Regions from separate parts of the Homo sapiens genome. Here region 2 is linked to region 1. Evidence: fine-mapped expression QTL. A gene starts in region 1. The other region holds a variant in brackets. All regions are shown on one strand. Distances are between the middles of the regions. Region 1 holds the start of PNMA1 (PNMA family member 1). Region 2 overlaps DNAL1 (dynein axonemal light chain 1).

The links.
Region 2: its variant is fine-mapped to the expression of PNMA1 in whole blood (TOPMed, PIP 0.97).

The regions. Positions count from the first base shown.
Region 1 is chr14:73,709,643-73,721,420 of GRCh38, reverse strand. PNMA1 (PNMA family member 1) reads left to right here and starts at 7,037. Exons shown (of 1, transcript NM_006029.5): 1 at 7,037-9,638. The coding sequence starts at 7,782. The coding sequence ends at 8,843. MIDEAS (mitotic deacetylase associated SANT domain protein) reads left to right here. Exons shown (of 13, transcript NM_001367710.1): 11 at 1-124; 12 at 1,920-2,116; 13 at 2,413-6,299. The coding sequence ends at 2,578. RefSeq lists enhancers at 1,996-2,606, 6,572-6,641, 7,582-7,641 and silencers at 6,862-7,141, 7,322-7,491.
Region 2 is chr14:73,680,287-73,692,064 of GRCh38, reverse strand. DNAL1 (dynein axonemal light chain 1) reads right to left here. Exons shown (of 8, transcript NM_031427.4): 6 at 4,680-4,806; 7 at 2,550-2,690. Among named protein-coding and RNA genes, the nearest start is that of PNMA1, 28 kb to the left of the region's middle. RefSeq lists an enhancer at 6,368-6,537. The variant C/T (reference allele first, on the strand shown) is at 6,544.

The sequences.
Region 1 (11,778 bases):
CAGGAAGGAGGGGGAGGAGGAGGTGCCAGAGATCCAAGAGAAGGAGGAGCAGGAAGAGGGGCGAGAGCGCAGCAGGCGGGCAGCGGCAGTCAAAGCCACGCAGACACTACAGGCCAATGAGTCGGTGAGTGTGACCACCATGGGCTGAGCCCAGGGCAAGCAGGGTGGAGCTGGGCCTGGGGGCGTGGGAGGGAGGGTAGAGCAGGACTGTGATCCTCATTATAATCATAATAGCAGGAAATGTGTGAAGTACTTTGTGCTGTTAACTCATTTAATCCTCACTACCCTATGTGGTTAGGTATTACTGTTATTCCCATTTTATAGATGGGGAAATTGTGGCCCAAGATAACACAGCTAGTAGGCAGCCTGAATCCAGAGTCTGCGATTAATTTTTATACTCTACTGCTTCTGTATCTGAGATTCAGAGGGAAAAAGGTTTTGTGAAAACCCAGTAGGTATGTGGGTCACTGAGGGAGCATTGGTGGTTTGCAGACAGGGCTCCCCTAAGAGAGCCAGAGTCCCTGACAAGAATGAGACTGAGCTGAGACCATGGGAATGACAATCATAGGCCCTCAGGCATGATCTCTGCAAAGTGCTTTCATTTCCATTATCTCATTAGTTCCTCACACTGCAGAGTTAACCTCTACTCTGCAGATGGGGGAAAGCAGTTCAGAGATGCTAAGTGACTTGCCCCAGGTCCTTGGACTCCTAGTGCAGTGCTCTGTCCACCATATCACAGGCCAAGAAACAAGACTACTGGCCATAGTTGCTCCTTGCCAGGGAGAGTTCTCCCAGAAAGGGGTAAGGAGGGGAAGGGGTTTATTGGGGAGCTGCTGCTTTTTTAGAGTCTTTTTTTTTAGAAATGTATGTAGTAGGCCGGGCGCAGTGGCTCACACCTGTAATCCCAGCACTTTGGGAGGCCAAGGTGAGTGGATCACCTGAGGTCAGGAGTCGAGACCAGCCTGGCCAACAAGGTGAAACCTCATCTCTATTAAAAATACAAAAACTAGCTGGGCATGGTGGTGCACGCCTGTAATCCCAGCTACTCCAGAGGCTGAGGCAGGAGAATCACTTGAACCCAGGAGGTGGAGGAGGCGGAGGTTGCAGTGAGCCAAGATCATGCCACTGCACTCCAGCCTGGGTGACATAGCAAGACTCCATCTCAAAAAAAAAAAAAAAAAAAAGGAATGTGTGTAGTACACTCATGCTTACAGAGCTCCCATAAACTGTAAACACACGGCTGTGTGCCCACTTCTGAGCCTCGACCACCTGCACCAAGAGCTGTGCTCTGTGTAGCGCTCTACAGAGTTCTGTTGACTTTTGTGAACTTTCCCATGAGGGTGCCACTTCTGATGGCCACCCGGGGCTTCCCCAGCCGAGGTCACCTCTGCTCCCTCTGCTCTGCACTCTGACCCCTGCCCTTGCCCTGTTTGGTGTCCCTGCAGTGCGCTGTCCTGAAGTAGCTACCTGCGCATCTGTCCCTTCCACCAGATCCTCAGCTCTGAGGGCAGGGATGCCTGTGTCAACCTCTTTGTCCCTAGCATCTGGCCCATCACAGGGGCCTGAATCTCATTTATAGAACAGGGCATGAGCGGACTAAATGACAGAAAACATCAACAGGTAGGTGCTTCATTAACCCAGAGACCAAGATCCCCTGTCAGGCGCATCAAGGCCTCTAGCAGCTCGGGCTGCCCCACAGAATTACTCTAGCAGCAACTTTGTAAACGATAGAGCTGACCAGAGATGCAGAGTTGGAGGAGGCAATGGTCGTCATATCCCTGGAAGGACCCAAGTGCATGCTAGGTGACTGTTTGGCAGGAATATATATGACTTTTCAGGCCCCCGGTTCCCTGCGATTTTAGAATTCCAGATCTGCGCTTGCTCAGATCACTCAACTCTCCTTGTTTGATTTTCTTCAGGCCAGTGACATCCTCATCCTCCGGAGCCACGAGTCCAACGCCCCTGGGTCTGCCGGTGGCCAGGCCTCGGAGAAGCCAAGGGAAGGGACAGGGAAGTCACGAAGGGCACTACCTTTTTCAGAGAAGAAGAAAAAAACAGAGACATTCAGTAAGACCCAGAATCAGGAGAACACTTTCCCCTGTAAAAAATGTGGCAGGTAAGGTGGGCAGCGCTGTCCCCGCTGGGACCCCCGCGGGCTGGTGCGCGGAGGGGGCGGGGGTGGGGTGGAGGGGAGGGGGAAGAGGTACAGGCGGTGTCCGCCTCGTTTCTGGTTGGCTCAGCGGGTTTCTAGGGCTGTGACGTCATGGGGCAGCTTTCGGAAAATGACGCGAGCTGGCCGGCCGCGGCTGTGCAGCGTGGGGGTGAAGGTGAAGGCTGGGGCTCCTCGCGCACCCGCGCTGGGGGCCCCCGGGTGGGCTAGGCCGGTTCTGAGCAACCCCCACCCGGCTGCAGGGTGTTTTACAAGGTGAAGAGCCGCAGTGCGCATATGAAGAGCCACGCAGAGCAGGAGAAGAAGGCTGCAGCGCTGAGGCTGAAGGAGAAAGAGGCCGCTGCTGCCGCCGCCGCCGCCCACCAGCAGGCCCTGCGGGAGGAGAGCGGTGCGGGCGACAAGGGCTGAGCGCGGGAGCCAGGCTGGCCCAGTCCTGGGCCTCGGCCCTTCCCGCACCGCCGCCAGCGCCCGCAGACACCCTGGCATCTCAAGAGGGAGTGAGGAGAGGATTGCAGGGACTTTTCCCTGCGAAACAAATGAGACAATGACATAAACGGCTCTTTTATTTATGAAGGCCCTGGGAGCAGCGTTAAGGGCTCCAGGATCCAGCTCTCTTTGCATTTGGTCTGTCGGAAGCTGTCCTCGTGCTTTCCTGGACCGGGAGAGTCCCGGTCCCCTCGGGAGGGACTCCACCGCCTCTCACACTCCGATTTCTGCTGCTCTGCTGCCCCGCAGTCTTTTCCCTTTATTTGCTTCCCCCTCCTCCCCTCGGCCTCCAGGAAGCCACCGTGGCCGGCCAAGCACAAGCTCACCCACTTTGGAGCAGCATTTCTCCTCCCCAGAGGACCTCGAAGGCTGCAACGGCCCTGCCCCAAGCCCCAGAAAAAGAAACTCTTGGAGGGAGTCTGCGGGCTTCTCTGAGAAGGGGCGCAGCCTGACACCTGTGCTGTCCCTGCAGTCTCTAGGCCTGTCTGAGCTGCTCCCGTGACCGTGTCCTGAGTGGCCACCTCCTCCTTGGGAGGGAGGCCGCGGCAGGTACTCTCCCTTTGCTGCTTGCTGGCGGCCTTGCTAGGGCTAGAAAGTTTTCTCAGCGTTGGGGGAGGGGCTAGCGTTCTTGTCCAAAGCACTCATCCTGCTGCAGGGAAGGGAGCTGTACGGAGGCTGGAAGCTGCAGGGTTAGGCCCGAGAGAGCTTTTGACAAGCCTGGCTCTTCCTGCTTCCCACCTTTTTGGCTGAATACCTTTGGGTCCTGGAGGCTGCCAAGGGCGCTTCGCCTTGAGCAGGTCCCGGAGAGGCTCAGCCTGCCCCTCCTGGGGCCAGCCTCCTTGCCTCTGCTCTGACCTCAGCAGCTACACCTAACCCCACCGCACCCTACCCAGTGTCGATATCCACAACCCAGCCCCCAGGCCTGCACTTTGGAGATTTCTGGATCCTTCCCTGGGAGGGAGAGGTCTCCTAACTCGATTGGACAGGAGCCTTCATTCCTTGACTCGTGTCATTTGGGAGCTATTTATTTATTCTTAGTATTTAATTTTTAACATCCTCTCAGGGACCAGGGGCCTCCTGCTTTTCAGAGGCCCGAGTGCATTTATCCCAAAACGAGGCATCTTGACATCCCCTATCCCCACCCCCTAAATTCCCAAGGCCCTAAGGTCCCTCACCTGGTTGCTCTGGAAGCTCTTGCTGATAGGAATGATAGCAACACTGAAAGAGCGTGGGAAGGTGGAGGGTGTCACCAGACCCACACAGAGCAAGGGAGATTAAGGCAGTTCTTGCTGCCCCTTCTCTGGCTGTGCTTTGCCTGAGGGAAGAGTTGGCAAGAGGCCAGAATTCTAGTTTGGTTTATGGGGCCTGGATTCTGGCTTGAAGAAGCCATATTTGGCATGGGTGAAGTGAAAGGGCCAGGAGGTTCTGGAGGCCCCTTCACTTCCAGTCCCATAGCGGGGCTCAGCTATTTTTCTGATCTTATTCAACTTTAGTTGTGCAAAAGAAATTCTAAGTGAATGCGCGTATGACAGGTCAACGTATTAGGAAGGAGCCAGAAAGTATTCATACTGCTACTCCTTATGAGATAGCCAAGAAGCATCATGTCAGTAACTGGGAGTGGAGAGGGAGTTTTGTTTTGAAACTATGCAGGTATTTTTCAGCATCCATTTGTACATTAGTATGGTTCTACAGGACCCCAGCTGTGGAAGTAACAAATTTCTTCTCCCTCCAGACTCTTGGATGACTACCTAGATCCCCAGCTTACCGGTTAGTTTCCTCCACAGGCTTCCATGAGCTCAGTGTCCCAAGACAGCAAAAATCTGGTATACCCTGTAGAAGCAGGGGGGTAGCAAATTTAGGCTCTCTTCGAAATTACTTGTACAATACGAGTGCCTTCGCAGCTTAGCCCCAAAGTGCTACTTATGTTTCCCAAGGTCTTTTCTATTCAAATCATATTTGGTTTCAGGCCCCTTTATGGGCATACGGTAACAGAAACCTCCATCATTCATATGAGACCCTTTTGTCAGTGGTAACATCTTGTACTTGGAAAAAAAATTTTTTTTTTTTTTTTTTTTTTTTTTTGAGACAGAGTCTCATTCTGTCGCCCAGGCTGGAGTGCAGTGGTGTGATCTTGGCTCACTGCAACCTCCGCCTCTTGGGTTAAAAGAATTCTCCTGCCTCAGCCTCCTGAGTAGCTGGGATTATAGGCACACACCACCACACCCAGCTAATCTTTTTGTATTTTTTTTTTTAGTAGAGACAGGGTTTCGCCATGTCGGCCAGGCTGGTCTTGAACTCCTGACCTCAGGTGGTCCACCCGCCTCGGCCTCCCAAAGTGCTGGCATTACAGGCGTGAACCACCGTGCCTGGCCGGAAGTCTTTAAAAAATAAAGTGATTCTACTCTTCTAAGCTTACAGAGACCAGACCAGGTGAATGTAACTGGGGAAAATCAAGATGGTACCTCTCTGCATTATCCCGCCAGACACTGTATTTTATGCATTCATGTCTAGGATACAGTGTGAAAATTAAAAAGTTTAGAGGGCAGATGCAATTGTGGCAAGTGACCTGCCAATAAAGCAGGTGCAGCTATAGAAGCTGGCATAGGTATATCCTTAATGGTGCTTTCTCCCTGGGCTTGTCTTTTTGTTGTTTTTTTCCCCCTATATTCAGAGCTCCTTGAGAAGTGATAAACACCTCCAGCTTTCTAACATCCTCCCCACACCATCTCACCATATCCATCTCCCAGCATCCATCTGCATTCAGCTAAGGGCGGGAAACTGACCTAGTGCCTGTGTTGCAGACCATTTCTGAGGTCTCCACCATCCAAGGAGGCACAGCCGTCATTACTGTCCTCCATGCCTTCAGCAGCCCCCCTCACAGCTAAGGTACATACCACCCCTTCTGCCGCGCCTCCACCCCTGGCACCAAGGTCTTCTGCTGCTTATGTCTAAAGGGATCACCTATATTTAACTGCCTCAGTGACCTAACCTCTTTCTTCTCATGTGCCAGATGTTAAGATGAAGGAGGAATACAACACATACTCAAGCCTCAGCCTGTTTAGTTGTTTTCACTGGGGCTCGCTTTTCTGGGACGGTATTTATTATCAGACTGGCAAGCCTAACTCCATAGGTTTACAGGAAGTAGGGATATTTTTATAAAACAATTGTGTCCTCCCCACATTTTGCTATGTTAATATTTGCTTCTAACAATTTGCAGCTGTTTCACTTTTTCCTCATTTGTCTCTAAGTTGAAGGCTTTGTTGGAGGGGACAGAGCACAGGAACAGCCTTGACAGTCTGTAATTATTGTACAGATATTTTAATAGCATATAAATAAGTATATTCCTTTTATTTTGAAACAAAAATGATCAGACACTGCCTTTTGTGTGTTTGCTGCCTGTGGCATCCTTTTTTAAAAAGACTGTTACATATTAAAATAGTGTACATATATAAATATTACCTCTTTTGCTGTACAGTTGTGATAGAGACTGAAGATTTTATTTTTTGTGTGCTTTTTATAAGAAAAAAATTAATACACTAAAGAATCTTGCTGATGTGATTGTAATGTACCTATGTAACTTATTTACTTTTGAATGTTCTTCTGTATCTTTAAACCTTTTATTAAATAAGGTTTTAAAAATTCAGAGTTGAATGCTTTGTTCTCTTGGGATTTTCACCATCTGGGGTTGATGTAAGTGCGCCTTGTCTTGCTTGCAGGGAGATTACTCGACATTTTTGAACCATAAGGATTCTCTTTTAGCAGCCTATTGTCAATGATGCCAGCCAGGAAAAGGAAAATAATACACTAATGTTTGCCTGGCTAAAAGATGACTCAGTAGACACAGACAGATTTTTACAAAATTTTAGACAAGAAAAAGTCTAAACTCAGTGTCTCACACAAATACACAGAAATGGCGCACTCCGACATTTTGGCTTCATTGGGATGAAATATGCAGGGTGCACAGTGTGGTCAGGGGCAACGGGAAGCCAGGGTTCTGAGGAGAGTATTTTCACGTGCAGGGTGGACTGGCTGAGCAACCCGAGTAGACAAGTCCACCATGAGGGATGCATTTCCAACAATATCATCTTAAATCCACTCCAGGATTGGGTTATTATTTTTAAAACACGGTGCTTAGTAGTAGTTGTTTACTGTTAAAATGCTAAATTATGAAAAAGGAAATGCGCCATCAGAGAAACAAATGCCCGAGCCCCTCGCTGGCTCCACGGCAACCGCTCGACCCCCGCGAGCCGCCGGAGCAGGCGTGCCTCGCGCCGGCTGGGACACCGTTGCCATGGAGACGCCCGAGCAGCTCCGCCGCGGGGGCGGGACGGGGCGGGGCGGGGCGGACGCCGCTCGCCGGCTGGCCCCATCCTCCACTGCAGCAGTAACGTCGCGGCGGGTTGCGGGTAGGACTGGACGCCAGAGCAGCCGCGCAGCGCCTGAACCGCTGCGGGCCGCCGCGGCCGCCCCTTCCCACCCTCGCCTCTGCTGTCTCCAGCCTCGCTTCTCCGACTTTCCTGCTCCTCTGCTGCCTTCGTTTCTGGTCCTCGGCCGTCCTCGCCGCCCGCCCAGAGGAGTCCCCGCGCCCGCCAAGAAGCCGCTTTCCGCTGGCCCGCAGCCGCCGCGACTTCGGCACAGTTTCTCCCTCTGGCTAGTCTCCCAAACGGCCGCTCCTCGCCCGCGGGAAGACCAGGCTGCGACCGCGAACGCCCGATCCTCTCCAGGAGCCGCAGCGAGCGCCCGGCGGCCACGCCCCGCGACCACACCCCGGCGGCTCTCGGCCCAGCGCGCCTGCCTTCGCCGCCCGCCGTCGCTCCTCGCCCGCTGCACGACGACGCGACGCCCCTGCTGCAGGCGGCGGACCCGACCGGACCCAGACCCAGACGCAAGATGGCGACGGCCGCGTGACTGCCTCAGCGTCCCCGAGCTCGGCTCCGAGTGCACCTACGGACTGACTGTGGGGGCAGAGAAGGGCGAGATCAGGACTCTGTCTTTGTTAATCGTGACTGCATGAAGGTCGCCTCCCTCGGGCCTACTTGGTGGGAGTGTCTGGTATTGTTCTAAGGCCAGGAGCACGGTGAGCCACAGTCTGTTGGTAGAATTTGGCGTCTTGATAGTTGAGAAAATGGCGATGACACTGTTGGAAGACTGGTGCCGGGGGATGGATGTGAACTCCCAGAGAGCTCTGTTAGTCTGGGGCATCCCAGTGAACTGTGATGAGGCTGAAATCGAAGAGACCCTCCAGGCTGCGATGCCCCAGGTCTCCTACCGAATGCTTGGGAGAATGTTCTGGAGGGAAGAAAATGCGAAAGCAGCCTTATTAGAGCTCACTGGCGCTGTAGATTACGCCGCGATCCCCAGGGAGATGCCGGGCAAAGGAGGGGTCTGGAAAGTGTTATTTAAGCCCCCAACTTCTGATGCTGAATTTTTAGAAAGATTGCACCTCTTCCTAGCTAGAGAGGGGTGGACCGTGCAAGATGTTGCCCGTGTCCTTGGGTTTCAGAACCCTACTCCGACCCCGGGCCCAGAGATGCCAGCAGAGATGCTAAACTATATTTTGGATAATGTTATTCAGCCTCTTGTTGAGTCCATATGGTACAAGAGGCTGACACTTTTCTCGGGGAGGGACATCCCAGGGCCTGGAGAGGAAACCTTTGATCCCTGGCTGGAGCACACTAATGAGGTCCTAGAGGAGTGGCAGGTGTCCGATGTAGAAAAGAGGCGGCGGTTGATGGAGAGTCTTAGAGGCCCCGCCGCTGATGTTATTCGCATCCTTAAGTCCAACAACCCCGCGATAACCACTGCCGAATGCCTGAAGGCGCTTGAGCAGGTGTTTGGGAGCGTTGAGAGCTCTAGGGATGCCCAGATCAAATTTCTGAACACTTATCAGAACCCGGGAGAAAAATTGTCTGCTTATGTCATTCGTCTGGAGCCTCTGCTACAGAAGGTGGTAGAGAAGGGGGCCATTGATAAAGATAATGTGAACCAGGCCCGCCTAGAGCAGGTCATTGCCGGGGCCAACCACAGCGGGGCCATCCGAAGGCAGCTGTGGCTTACCGGGGCTGGGGAAGGGCCAGCCCCAAACCTCTTTCAGTTGCTGGTGCAGATCCGTGAGGAGGAAGCCAAGGAGGAGGAGGAGGAGGCTGAGGCCACCCTTCTGCAGTTAGGCCTGGAAGGGCACTTCTGAGTGCCAGGAAAGGCAGCTTTAGTGCAGACCTAGATCACAGCTACTTTTCTTGTCCCTGTGGGGTCTTACAGATGTGTCTCTGAGTAGTAAAGGCTTAGCCTTGTTCTGTTTTGTTGTTTTTTGGAGGGGAAGGTTAGTCAGGCCTGAGTATTCATGTAACATTCTAAAATTGTGCCAGCGAGCACCGTGAACGACTGCAATGCAAGCGGGTCTTGCTGGCTAAAATGCCAGGTAAAGGGTTGGTTGGACACAGCGCTTAGTGCACGCTGTCATCATGGACATCATAATCAGTTGTGAAAAACACGCGAACCTATGACACTTCTTATTCCACACTGAATGTGAAATTGCATGTTCAGATGTTTACTACGAGGCCTGGCTCACAGGAAGTGTTCAGTAAAAGTATGCACTGTTAGATTACTGATAACGCGGATAGATTTTTGTTTACCATAAATTGTTCCAGATTTATATTAATGGAAGGAAGTGTGCATTTATTAGCTATTACTCAACTTTACAATGCAAACATCTTATTTCTCATCTTTAAACATGTCGACCAGTTTAATTGAAAAGTATTCTGAGACTGCAAAATGGGGTGTTAAAAAATACTGCAGTTACGGAGCTGTGTAAACCAGTTTCTCATTGCATAAGATACAGATGTAAATTGCATGGAGAGGTTGATATGCACCTGTACAGTAATTCACTCCCCCATTTCACATCTTTGTCAGAGAATAGTTCTTGTTCATACTGAGTGTTCTAAATTTGAAGTTATATATACAAATTAAAATATTTTAAAAATTCTGTTGTCTTCTCATTTTTCTGGCATGTATAAACATTTTTAGCCTAAGTAAACTGTCCTTTTTTCTTATGAAGACTTTGTCATTAAATCAAACCATTTATTTTAAGCTTTGTATGATACTATGTGAATTTAAATGGCAGGTCCTTTTTTTCCTTCCCCTCTTGCTGTCATCTTAACAGTTTTTTGTTTTGTTTTTTAATTTTTAAAATTTTTTATTTTTATCGGGCAGAGAGGGTCTTGCTCTGTTGCCCAGCCTGGAGTGCAATGGAGCGATCTCGGCTCACTGCAACCTCTGCCTCCCGGGTTCAAGTGATTCTCCTGCTTCAGCCTCCTGAGTAGCTGGGATTACAGACATGCGCCACCACGCCTAGCTAATTTTGTATTTTTTTAGTAGAGACGGGTTTCACCATGTTGGTCAGGCTGGTCTGGAACTCCTCACCTCAAGTGATCCACCCACCTCGGCCTCCCAAAGTGCTGGGATTACAGGCGTGAGCCACCTCGCCGTCTCTACTAAAAATACAAAAATTAGCCGGGTGTGGTGGTGCGTGCCTGTAATTCCCGCTACTTGGGAAGCTGAGTCAGGAGAATCGCTTTGGGAGGCGGAAGTTGCAGTGAGCCGAGATTGCGCCATTGCACTGCAGCCTGGGCAACAGAGTGAGACTCCATCTCAAAAAAAAAAAAAAAAAAATTTAGATACCAGATTTGGCTCACACTTGTAATCCCAGCACTTAGGGAGGATTGCCTGAAGCCAAGATTTTGAGACCAGCTTGGGCAACATAGACCCAATCTCCACCCAAACTTTTAAAAATTAGCCAGGCATGGTGGCACACGCCTGTGGTCCCAGCACTAAGGTGGCCACCCAGCGGCTAAGGTGGGACATCGCTTGAGCTCAGCAGGTTGAGGCTGCAGTAAGCCATGATCGTCCCACCGCACTCCAGCCTGGTGATAGAGTGAGACCCTGTTTCTCAAAAAATTTTTTTTTAGAAAATCTTGAAATGGGGTTCAGGAGGTTATCTGGCAGTGTTTTTCTCTTAAGATCACTTTTCAGCTAAACATTTTGTTTCACTGAAGAAATAGCTATAATTCATCACACCTGTGTAAAATGAAGGCTATTTTACAGCAACCATTTTATAGCAGGACGATATAAAAAGGGAAATACAACTTTAAAACATGTTTATTTTGCTGCAAAGATTCAGTGATTGAAGATGTCCATCTTTTGAGATCCTCAGTGAATCTAAAGTTATTACATGAATATTGTGTTCAGTGAGCCTTTCCCTAATAAGGTTTTAAAATTATAGCTGAGCCATTCGACAAGTCTATAAGGGGTAATGTATGTTCTTCCAGATTTTTCGGTACACGTATTCGCTTCATGTCAGTACATCCCTTTCCTCCTGTCACAAAAACATCTCCACATACTTGCCTTGGTTCCCAACAGATATGCTCAGCTTCACTTACCACAAACACTTGGCATGTCTTCACCTGCTACCCATCATTCACAGAACTTTCCCCTCCATTCCCACCAGCATCAGGTGCACACTCACCCCTCTTACACTCTTGACACACTGTCATCTCCCCGTCAGTACTCCCATCATAACATACACCCTCCTCCTGCTCCACATGTACACGATGTCAGTCTCCCACCCCCAACATATATTCCCATTTCTCCTCACACCCACACACACTCCCACCACCAAACACCAACCAGCCACCACATATGTATACACACTCCCACTCCACACATATACACACATACTGCATTTTTTTTTTTGAGACGGAGTCTCGCTGTGTTGCCCAGGCTGGAGTGCAGTAGCGTAATCTCAGCTCACTGCAACCTCTGTCTGTTGGGCTCAAGTGATCCTCCTGCCTCAGCCTCCCAAGTAGCTGGGATTACAGGTGTGTGCCACTACGCCCGGCTAATTTTTGTATTTTTAGTAGAGACAAGGTTTCACCATGTTGGCCGGGCTGGTCTCAAACTCCTGACCTCGTGGTTTGAAAGTACTCCAAAAATGCTGGGATTACAGGCGTAAGCCACCACAACTGGCCCACATACTACATTTTTAAAAATGGGCCCGTTGTAGTGGCTCACACCTGTAATCCCAGCACTTTGGGATGCTGAGGTGGGAGGATCACTTAAGGACAGGA
Region 2 (11,778 bases), 29 kb after region 1:
GATGGTGCCACTGCACTCTAGCCTGGGTGACAGAGCAAGGCTCTGTCTCAAAAAAAAAAAAAAAAAAAGTCTGGGCACAGTGGCTCACCGCCTATAATCCCAGCACTTTAGGAGGCCAAGGCGGGCGGATCACGAGGTCAAGAGGTCAAAACCATCCTGGCCAACATGGTGAAACCCCATCTCTACTAAAAATACAAAAATTAGCTGGGGGGGGGGGGTGGCGCACGCCTGTAGTTCCAGCTACTTGGGAGGCTGAGGCAGGAGAATCGCTTGAACCCGGGAGGCGGAGGTTGCAGTGAGCCAAGATTGCGCCATTGTATTCCAGCCTGGGCAACAGAGCCAGACTCTAAAAAAAAGAATGACAGACTGAATTTCTTAACAGCCCAGCTGAATTGAATTGGGGAGGTAGTGTTCAAAGTCAAAATGAGGTCGATTTATATTGAAATATTTCTTATACACTTGCATTTTGGGATTGAGTTAAAATCTAAAATAATTATAACTCTTTATTTTGTTTCTGAGACAGAGTCTCACTCTGTTGCCCAGGCTGGAGTGCAGTGGCATCATCTTGGCTCACTGCAACCACCGCCTCCCAGGTTCAAGCAATTCTCCTGCCTTAGCCTCCTGAGTAACTGAGATTACAGGCACCCACCACCAGGTCCAGCTAATTTTGTATTTTTACTAGAGACAGGATTTCACCATGTTGGCCAGGCTGGTCTCGAACTCCTGACCTCAAGTGATCCTCCCACCTCGGCCTCCCAAAGTGCTAGGATTACAGGTGTGAGCCACCACACCCAGCTAATAACATATATTTTGAATACTTACTTTATGTTAAGCACAACGTTTAGCGTAGATTATCTCTATGTGTTCATTGTTTCACATAGATTATTTTATTTAATCCTCATAATAATACTCTGATATATGTTCTGAAATGATTACTAATGATACTATTATCATCTCCAGTTTTTAGATTACCAATGAACAAGGTTTGGTGAGATTAATTAATTAGCACAATTTCACAAACTATTAAGTGGAGGAGCTGGGACTTGACTCAGTTAATTAGGGTTATCTACTGATGCTGACACTGATCTTAAGATATTGGGAAACTAAGACTGGGGATGAGGGGAGAAACAGAGAGAATACCACAATTTTGATCCAATTGTAAAAAAGCAACTGCTTACCATGTATTTCTAATTATTCTGCAGAATCAGAATAATTTTTGATTCTGATCAAAATTTGTGACCTTTGTGTTACCTTTCTGACTTGAGAATAAGCCTAACTTTCTTTATTTTTTAAACTTGCTTAAATGAGCTAGAAGTTTATTTTTCTTTTACATAAAAGTACAAGTAGATAGTAGATAGACATGGAACTTTATGTTGTCTGGAAGTCAGGATCCTTCTCTTTTTTTTTTTTTTGAGACGGAGTTTCGCTCTTGTTGCCTAGGCTGGAGTGTAGTGGCACAATCATGGCTCACCACAACCTCCGCCTCCCGGATTCAAGCGATTCTCCTGCCTCAGCCTCCCGAGTAGATGGGGTTACAGGCATGCACCACCACATCCGGCTAATTTTGTATTTTTAGTAGAGATGGGGTTTCTCCATGTTGGTCAGGCTGGTCTCGAACTCCCAACCTCAGGTGATCTGCCCGCCTTGGCCTCCCCAAGTGCTAGGATTACAGGCATGAGCCACCGCACCTGGCCAGGCTCCTTCTCTCTTACTGCTTGCATGGGTGTCCTCCTTGTGATACAGGGAAGAGTGAGAAAAGGAGGAGGCTCAGCACCAAACCCTGAATAATTCCAGCTTTAATCCAACATAGCAGAAGGAAATTTATATCAGGAAAAAATAAATATACAATTTTTTAAAAATAAATACAGGGTTTTTCTCACTATATTGCAAAGGCTGGTCTCAAACTCCTGACCTCAAGCAATCTTCTTGCCTCATTGAATAGCTTGACTACAGAAACGTGCCACTGTGACTGGCTCCATGTAGATTTATAAGGCCTAGCTTTCTTTTCTTTTCTTTTTTTTTTTTTTGAGACGGAATTTCACTCTTTTTTGCCCAGGCTGGAGTGCAATGGCACAATCTCAGCTCACTGCAACCTCCGCCTGCCGAGTTCAAGTGATTCTCCTGCCTCAGCCTCCCGAGTAGCTGGGATTACAGGTGCCCGCCACCACGCCTGGCTAATTTTTATATTTTTAGTAGAGATGGGGTTTCACCATGTTGGCCAGGCTGGTCTCAGACTCCTGACCTTCGGTGATCCACCCGCCTCAGCCTCCCAAAGTGCTAGGATTACAGGCGTGAGCCACCCATGCCCGGCCAGGCCTAGCTTTCTTATAAGCTTTTGGTCTAGGGAGAATCTTGTACCAGTCTAAATATCCTAGCAGTTTTTCATCTCACCTTGGCTCAAACCTAGACCATTCAATTTTACATAGATAGAAATGACCTGGAAGATCAGAGGTATTTTTTCTTTAGTTTTTCTCCTCTTCATGATTCCATGCCACAAATTCCATTTTTATGCCTAGAAGATATGTCTAAGCCAGCTCAGAATCACTCACCATCCAGCTTTTTCAGTTTGGGCACTCTCTTGGTTGCTTCTTCAATCCAGTTATTCTCAGCAGAATGTTTCTCTTCCAAGGGATTGCCTACAAACACCAGGTCTTCGAGGCATGGCAGTTCTGCCAGCTTCACAAACTCAGCTACAAGTAAAAGAATATTTTCCATATTAAAACACTAAGTTTTGGCCGGGTGCGGTGGTCCACGCCTGTAATCCCAGAACTTTGGGGGGACAAGGCGGGCGGATCACGACATCAGGAGATCGAGACCATCCTGGCTAACACAGTGAAACCCCATCTCTACTAAAAATACAAAAATAAGCCAGGCATAGTGGTGGGCACCTGTAGTCCCAGCTACTCAGGAGGCTGAGGCAGGAGAACTGCTTGAACCCGGGAGACGGAGGTTGCAGTGAGCAGAGATTGCACCAATGCACTCCAGACTGAGCGACAGAGCACGACTCTGTCTCAAAAAAAAAAAAAAAAAAAAAAAAACAGCAAGTTTTACTGTTACAATTTTGGGGATTAAATTCCAATATCATTAACCCTCAGTTTGTGACTATTCATGACAATCAGTTGTTTAAGATTTTGAAGGAAGCTAGGAAAGTTATACCATATAAAGTCATTCTCAGAAGACAGTACAGGATGGGAGGGAAAAAGAAGACATACCTCTCTACTTTAAATGCTAGCATAAGGATGAAATAAGACGAGATGAGATTCAAAGTCAAAAAGAACAAATCACTCTCCAGTGACAGGTCTTCTTCATGCTGTGCTGCATCAGTGTAGGTTAAGCTAACCTGCCTTTGTCTGTACCCATTCCCTCATCTTTGAATTCTTAAAACAACACATTCAAATCTGTATTGCAGAACTTATCACACAGTTTTGCTTTTTTTTGTTTTGAGAAAGAGTCTCCTTCTGTCACCCAGGCTGGAGTGCAATGGCTTCATCTCCACTCGCTGCAACCTCTGTCTCCTGGGTTAAAGCAACTCTCATGCCTCAGCCTCCCAAGTAGCTTGGACTACAGGCATGTACCACCACACCTGGCTATGTTTTTGTATTTTTGTATTTTTACAAAAAAAAATTTGGGTTTTGCTATGTTGGCCAGGCTAGTCTCAAACTCCTGACCTCAGGTGATCTGCCCGCCTTGGCCTCCCTAATTGTTGGGATTACCAGCAAGAGCCACTGCACCTGGCCTCTTATCACACAGTTTTATAATTATCAGCTTACAAACTAATTTTCCCCACTAAGCTGTGAACTTCTTGAGGGCAGGGATAATGTCCTATTCAACTATGTATCCAAAGAGACTGGTATAGTTCATCGCATATAACTGAATGAATTATATACAATAAAAAAGCAAAGTAACATAGATATCAAATAAGTCTTCTACCTTTGAAGTATTAAATTTAAACTGATTACTTCAGCCTTTGGATAATAGCTTAAATTTTTTTCATGATTAATAGGACCAGGACCTATCAGATTACGTTCATCCTAATTTTTTTTTTCAAGTTCTTTCACTTTTTTATTTTTTATTTTTATTATACTTTAAGTTTTAGGGCATATGTGTACAACGTGCAGGTTTGTTACGTATGTATACATGTGCCATGTTGGTATGCTGTGCCCATTAAGTCGTCATTTAACGTTAGGTATTTGAGACGGAGTCTTGCTCTGCTGCCCTGGCTGGAGTGCAGCGGCGCGATCTCGGCTCACTGCAAGCTCCGCCTCCCGGGTTCACGCCATTTTCCTGCCTCAGCCTCCCGAGTAGCTGGGACTACAGGCGCCCGCCACGACGCCCGGCTAATTTTTTTGTATTTTTAGTAGAGACGGGGTTTCACCGTGTTAGCCAGGATGGTCTCGATCTCCTGACCTCGTGATCCACCCGCCTCGGCCTCCCAAAGTTCTGGGATTACAGGCGTGAGCCACCGCGCCCGGTCCATCCTAAGTAAATATTTAAATATAAATGTTAAGCATTTAAAATTTAGAAACTCCTATTGCTGTTTCTCTCTGAGCTTAGCCATAAATGTTTCCACTTTCTCTCTGTGCTTAGAAATAAACGTTCTCGTTTTGCATCTTTTCCCTCTCGGACTATTTTCTATAAACAGGCGGTAGAAGGTTAGCAAAGGGCCACTCTCAGCTTACCCCAGTCTTTTACCAGGTTATTAGACATGTAGAGAATCTTCAATTTCTTCATTATGTGGATCCCTTTCAACTTCTCAATAAAATTGTAGGAGATCCACAGTTCTTCTAATGTGTCCCCTACTGCCTCCTGAAAAAGAACAAAATTTGATTTATGTTTATGTTTAAGCTTTTCTTTCTGTCTTCTTCTTTATAAAGATATACATAATGGCTTCCAAAGTGAACTTAGACCCTGCCTGTCTACTTGTAGAAGAGCTAGTAGTTGTGTGGGAGGTTTTTTTTTTCTCATTGAGGGAGCTAAGTAGAACATTCCATTCCCTTCTTCAAACTAATCTGAACTCTTCCTTCTCTGACTGCTCCACTAAAAAAAAAAAAAAATCACAAAACATAATACGTTACTAATACTGAAATCACCAAGAGGGGAAATAATGGCACTATCTTATCTCGTTCATTAATGGTACGGTTTTCAAATTACATTCCTATAGAGTATATTATTTGGTCCTTAGAACATCTGCTTTAAAGCCGATAAGGCAGGTTATTTGATTTCTATTACAGAGGGATTAAGGGCTTTTTCTAAGAACACACTATTAAATAATAGAGCTAGGTCTAAAATTCAGGGTCTTCTCCAACATTTATTATGATGATTTTCAAACATAAAAAAGTTGTTTTTTGTTTTGTTTTGAGACAGGGTCTCACTCTGTCACCCAGACTGGGGTGCAGTGTCACACTCACAGCTAACTGCAGCCTCAACCTCCCCCGGGCTCAAGCAATCCTCTCACCTCAGCCTCCCTAGTAGCTGGGACTACAGGTGCACACTACCACATCTGGCTAATTTTTGTCTTTTTGGTAGAGATGGGTTTTGTAGAGATGTTGTCCAGGCTGGTCTTGAACTCCTGGACTCAAGGGATCTGCCCGCCTCGGCCTCCCAAAGTGCTGGATTAAGGCATGAGCCACTGTGCCCAGCCAATAATACAATTTCCTGTAAGTATTTGTTAAGTAGATAATAAAGACAAGATTTTTGTGAAGCAGTCTAGTGAATATCAATGAGGAAAACCTGGCAAAGTTTGAGTGAATCAATTCAGTGAAATCTGTCATTAAATAAGCTGACTCTTTCGAGAATTGGACAATAACTGAACAGTCATTTAGCAAACTGGTCAGCTTCTGCATGTAAACAAGCCATTTCTCCCCTCAGTTTCTTACTCTGTAAAATGAGGAGACTGGCGCAATGAAATACCATCTCATACCCATTAGGATAGCTACTATCAAAATCACAGAAAATAGTAAGTATTAGTGAGGATGTGGAGAAATTGGAACCTTGTACACGGTTGGCAGGGAGGTAAAATGGTGCAGCTGCTATGGAAAACAATTTGGCCGTTCCTTAAAAAATTAATTATCATATGATAATTGATATCACTTAACAGGGGATCCAGCCATTCCACTTCGGGGCACATATTCAGAAGAAATGAAAGTGGGATCTCGAGATATTGGTACGCCCATGTTCACAGTAGCAAATTCACAATAGCCAAAAGATGGACGTGACCCAAGTGTCCACTGATAGACAAACGGATAAACAAAACATGGTATATACATACCGTAATAGAATATCATTTAACATTAAGCAGGAATGGGCTGGGTGCAGTGGCTCACATCTGTAATCCCAATACTTTGGGAAGCCAAGGCGGGCGGCTCACCTTAGGTCAGGAGTTTGAGACCAGCCTGGCCAACATGGTGAAATCCCATCTCTAATAAAAATATAAAAAAATTAGCCGGGCATGGTGGCACATGCCTGTAGTCCCAGCTACTTTGGCGGCTGAGGCAGAAGAATCACTTGAACCTGGGAGGTAGAGGTTGGAACGAGCCAAAATTG[C/T]GCAACTGCACTCCAGCCTCAGCGATACAGTGAGACTCAGTCTCAAAAAAAAAAAAAAAAATTAAGCAGAAAGGAAATTCTGACACACGCTACAACATGGATGAAACTTGAGGATATTACGCTAAGTTAAATAAGCCAGTCACAAAAAGATAAATGCTGTATGATACTACTTATATGAAATACCTAGAGTAGTTAAATTCGTAAAGACGGAAAGTGGAATGGTGGGTGCCAGGGATCAGGGAAGAGGCAGTAGGAAGCTACTGTATGCTTACAGAGGTTCAGACACACAAGATGAAGAGAGTTCTGGAGATGGATGGTGATGGTTGTGCAAGTCTACTTACTACCACTGAACTATACACTTAAAAATGTTTTAGATGGTAAACTTTATGTTATGTATATTTCACCACCATAAAAAACATTGGAAAAAATGAGGAAGTTGGACAAGTTCTTTAAGGTTCCTCTCAGCTATTAAAATTTATGATTTTTTAAGGTCAACAAACCATTGTAAGTATTGAAAACAAAAAAGTAAATGTCTACTCTGTAAATAATATCATGTTGGAGGTTACAGAAGTGGGAGAGCTTTATGAAATGCCATAAAATCTATTTTTTTAGTTTGTTTTTTAGTTTAGAGACAGAGTCTCGATCTGTTACGCAGGCTGCAGTACAGGGCACAATCAGGTCACTGCAGCCTTGAACTCCTGGGCTCAAGTGATCCTCCTGCCTCAGCCCCCTGAGTAGTTAGAACAGGCACGTGCCACCATGCTTGGCTAATTTAAAAAAATTTTTTTTTGTAGAGACAAGAGTCTCACTATGTTGTCTAGGCTGGTCTCAAACTCCTGGCCTCAAGCAATCCTGCCTCGACCTCCCAAAGTGCTAGGACTATAGGCGTGAGCCACCATGCCCAGCTGACCTCTATTTTAGACTATATGTAATGAGGATGATGATGATGATTATTGCTCTGTATAAAGTAATGAATCCAGGTAACACAATGTTGCTTGAAAATTGTTGTGGGGATGTGATTTATAAACAGTTAAGAATTGTTGGTAGGTAGTTGATTACATGTTAAGTATACAAAAATAAATGGCTTTTATATTATTTAATATAAACAGGAAGGGTGTTAAAGAGAAATGCATCATAGCAACAAAAACTATAAATTACCCAGGAAATTAAAAATAGAACTACCATATGATTCAGCAATCTCACTACAGGGTATATAGCCAAAAGAAATGAAAACAGTATGTCGAAGAGATAGCTATCAGCACTCCCATGTTTACTGCAGCACTATTCACAATAGCCAAAATATGGAATCAACCTAAGTGTCCAATAATGAATGAATGTATAAAGAAAATATGGTATATCACACAATGGAATACTATTCAGCCATAAAAAAGCATGAAATCCTGTCATTTGTTACAATGTGAATGAACCTGGAGAACATTATGTTAAGTGACACATCAGACACAGAATGACACTGCATGATCTCACTCATATGTGGAATCTAAAAAAGTTGATCTCGGCCAGGTGCGGTGGCTCACGCCTGTAATCCCAGCACTTTGGGAGGCCGAGGTAGGTGGATCACTTGAGGCCAGGAGTTTGAGACCAGCCTGACCAACATGGTGAAACCCCGTCTCTACTAAACATATAAAATTAGCCAGGTGTGGTGGTGGGCACCTGTAATCCCAGCTACCTGGGAGGAAGAGGCAAGAGAATCGCTTGAACCTGGAAGGTGGAGGTTGCAGTGAGCTGAGATCACACCATGGCACTCCAGCCTGGGTAACAAGAGTGAACTTGTTATTCTCAAAAGAATAATAATAATAATAATAAATAAATAAATAAAAAAAGCTGATCTCATGGAAGTAGAGAGCAGAACAGTAGTTACCAGAGACTGGAGAGGGGGGTGGGGGGCTGAGGGGAGGATGGGAATAAGTTGGTAAATGAGTACCAAGTTACAATTATGTAGGAGAATAAGCTCTGGTGTTCTATTGCACAGCAGGTTAACTATAGTTAACAATAATATATACAGTCATGCAATGCATAACATTTCATCAATGATTGACTCTATATACAATGGTGGTCCCATAAGATTATAATAGGGCTGAAAAATTCCTATTGCCTAGTGATATCCCAGCAGTCATAATGTGGTAGCACAAGGCATTCAAGTTTGTGGTGATACTAGTGTAAACAAACCTACTGAGCCACCAGCCATACACACGCATAACACATACACTTATGTATAGTACATAATAATGATAGTAAATGACAATATTACTGGTTTATGTGTTTACTATACTTTTTATAGTTATTTAAGATATACCCCTTCTACTTATTAAAAAAAAGCTAACTGTAGGCTGGGCGCGGTGGCTCACGCCTGTAATCCCAGCACTTTGGGAGGCCGAGGCAGGCGGATCACCTAAGGTAGGGAGTTCGAGACCAGCCTGACCAACATGGAGAAACCCTGTCTCTACTAAAAATACAACATTAGCTGGGCGTGGTGATGCACGCCTCTAATCCCAGCTACTCGGAAGGCTGAGGCAGAAGAATCGCTTGAACCCAGGAGGTGGAGGTTGCGGTGAGCCGAGATTGTGCCATTGCACTCTGGCCTGGGCAACAAGAGCGAAACTCCAACTAAAAAAAAAAAAAAAAAAAAAAAAATAACTATAAAACAGCCTCAGACAGGTCCTTAAGGAGGTATTCTAGAAAGAAGGCACTGTTGTCATACGAAATGGTGGCTCCATGTGTGTTACTGCCCCTGAAGACTTTCCAGTGGGACAAGATGTGGAGGTGGAAGACAGTGATATTGACTCTGGGTAGGCCTAGGCTAATGTATGTGTTTGTGTCTTCATTTTTAACAAAAATGTGTAAAAAAGATTTAAAAATTTAAAGATAGAAAAAAGCTTATAGAAAGCTTATAGAATAATGAAATAAAGAAAGAAAATATTTTTATACTACTATACAATGTGTGTTTCCAGCTGTTATTACAAAAAAGTCAAAAAGTTAAAAAAATATTGAAAAGTTTTTAACATTAAAAAAGTTGGCCGGGCGCAGTGGCTCATGCCTGTAATCCCAGCACTTTGGGAGGCCAAGGCGGGCAGATCACTTGAGGCCAGGAGTTCGAGACTAGCCTAGCCAACACAGTGAAACCCTATCTGTACTAAAAATACAAAAAAAAAAAAAAAAAAAAAAATTAGCCAGGCATGGTGGTGAGCACCTGTGATCCCAGCTACTCGGGAGGCTGAGGCAGGAGAATCACTTGAACCTGGGAGGCAGAGGTTGCAGTGAACTGAGATTGAGCCACTGCACTCTAGCCTGGGCAACAGAGCGAGACTCCATCTCAAAAAAAAAAAAAAAAAGTTACAGTAAGCTAAGGTTAATTTCTTATTGAAGAAATAAAAACAATATTATTATTTTTGAGACAGAGTTTTGCTCTTGTTGCCCAGGCTGGAGTACAAAGGTGCGATCTCGGCTCACTGCAACCTCTGCCTCCCAGGTTCAAGTGATTCTCCTGCCTCAGCCTTCCAAGTAACTGGAATTATAGGCATGCACCACCACGCCTGGCTAATTTTGTATTTTCAATAGAGATGGGGTTTCTCCATGTTGGTCAGGCTGATCTCGAACTCCCAACCTGAGGTGATCCACCTGCGTCAGTCTCCCAAAGTGCTGGGATTACAGGCGTGAGCCACCATGCCCAGCTAAACATATTATTTTTATTTATTTATTCATTTATTTAGAGGCAGCGTCTTGCTCTGTTGTCCAGGCTGGAGTGCAGTGGTGTGATCAGAGCTCACTGCAAACTCTAACTCCTGGGCTCAAGCAATCCTCAGTTTCCTGATACCTAGGACTACAGTGTGCATCACCACACCCAACTAATATATATATATATATATATATTTTTTTTTTTTTTTTTTTTTTTTTTTTTGGTAGAGATGGGGTCTCGCTATGTTGTCCATGCTTGATTCCAACTACTGGCCTTAAGTGATCCCACCGCCTCAGCCTCCTCAAGTGCTGGCATTACAGATGTGAGCCACTGTGCCCAGCTAAAACATTGTTTATAAATTAAGTGTAGCCTGTGTACAGTGTTTTATAAAATCACCGGGTGCGGTGGCTCATGCCTGTAATCCCAGCACTTTGGGAGGCCGAATCGGGTGGATTACCTGAGGTCAGGAGTTTGAGACCAGCCTGGCCAACATGGTGAAACCCCATCTCTAGTAAAAAATATAAAAACTAGCCGGGCATGGTGGTGGGCTCCTGTAATCCCAGCTATTCAGGAGGCTGAGGCAAGAGAATTGCTTGAACCCAGGAGACGGAGGTTGCAGTGAGCCGACAGGGTGCCACTGCACTCCAGCCTCAGTGACAGAGTGAGACTCCGTCTCAAAAAAAAAAAAAGCAAAAAAACAACAAACCCAACAACAACAAATAACAACAACAACAAAAAATCTACAGTTGTGTACGGTAATGTCCTAGGCCTTCACATTCACTCATCAGTCACTCACTGACTCATCCAGAAAAACTTGCAGTCCTGCAAGCTCCATTTATGATAAATGCTCTATACACCTGTATCATTTCTTATATTTTACACTGTATTTTTACTGTACTTTTTCTATGTTTAGATATACAAATACTTACCATTGTGTTCCAACTGCCTGCAGCACTCAGTACAGTGATATGCTGAGCAGGTTTGTCGCCTAGGAGCAATAGGCTAAACCATATAGCCTATGTATGTAGTAGGCTATACCATCTAGGTTTGTGTAAGCACACTCTATGATGTTCACACAACAACGATTGCCTAATGTTGCATTTCTCAGAATATATCCCAGTCATTATGTGATGCATGACTGTATTTCAAAATAGCTAGAAGAGAAGATTTTTAATGTTCTCACTATAAATAAATAATGTTTGAGTGATTGATATGCTAATCACCTTGGTTTGATCATTACACAACGTATATATATGTATCAAAACATAGCATTGTACCCCATGAATAAGTATAATTATAATGTGTCAATTTAAGAATTACTCAGAAATAAATCTTTATACATGAAATATACAAGGTCTTATAGGAATTAAAACTATGGAATTCTACTGAAGGACATAAAAAATATGAATACGTCTTCTCATAAGATTCATTATTATAAAGCTATAACTTCTCTCCAAATCAATTCACAAATGTAATATTTAGGAGTTTTTTCATACATGGACAAAGATGGTGGAGCAACACAGCTTGTACAAAAGATTGCA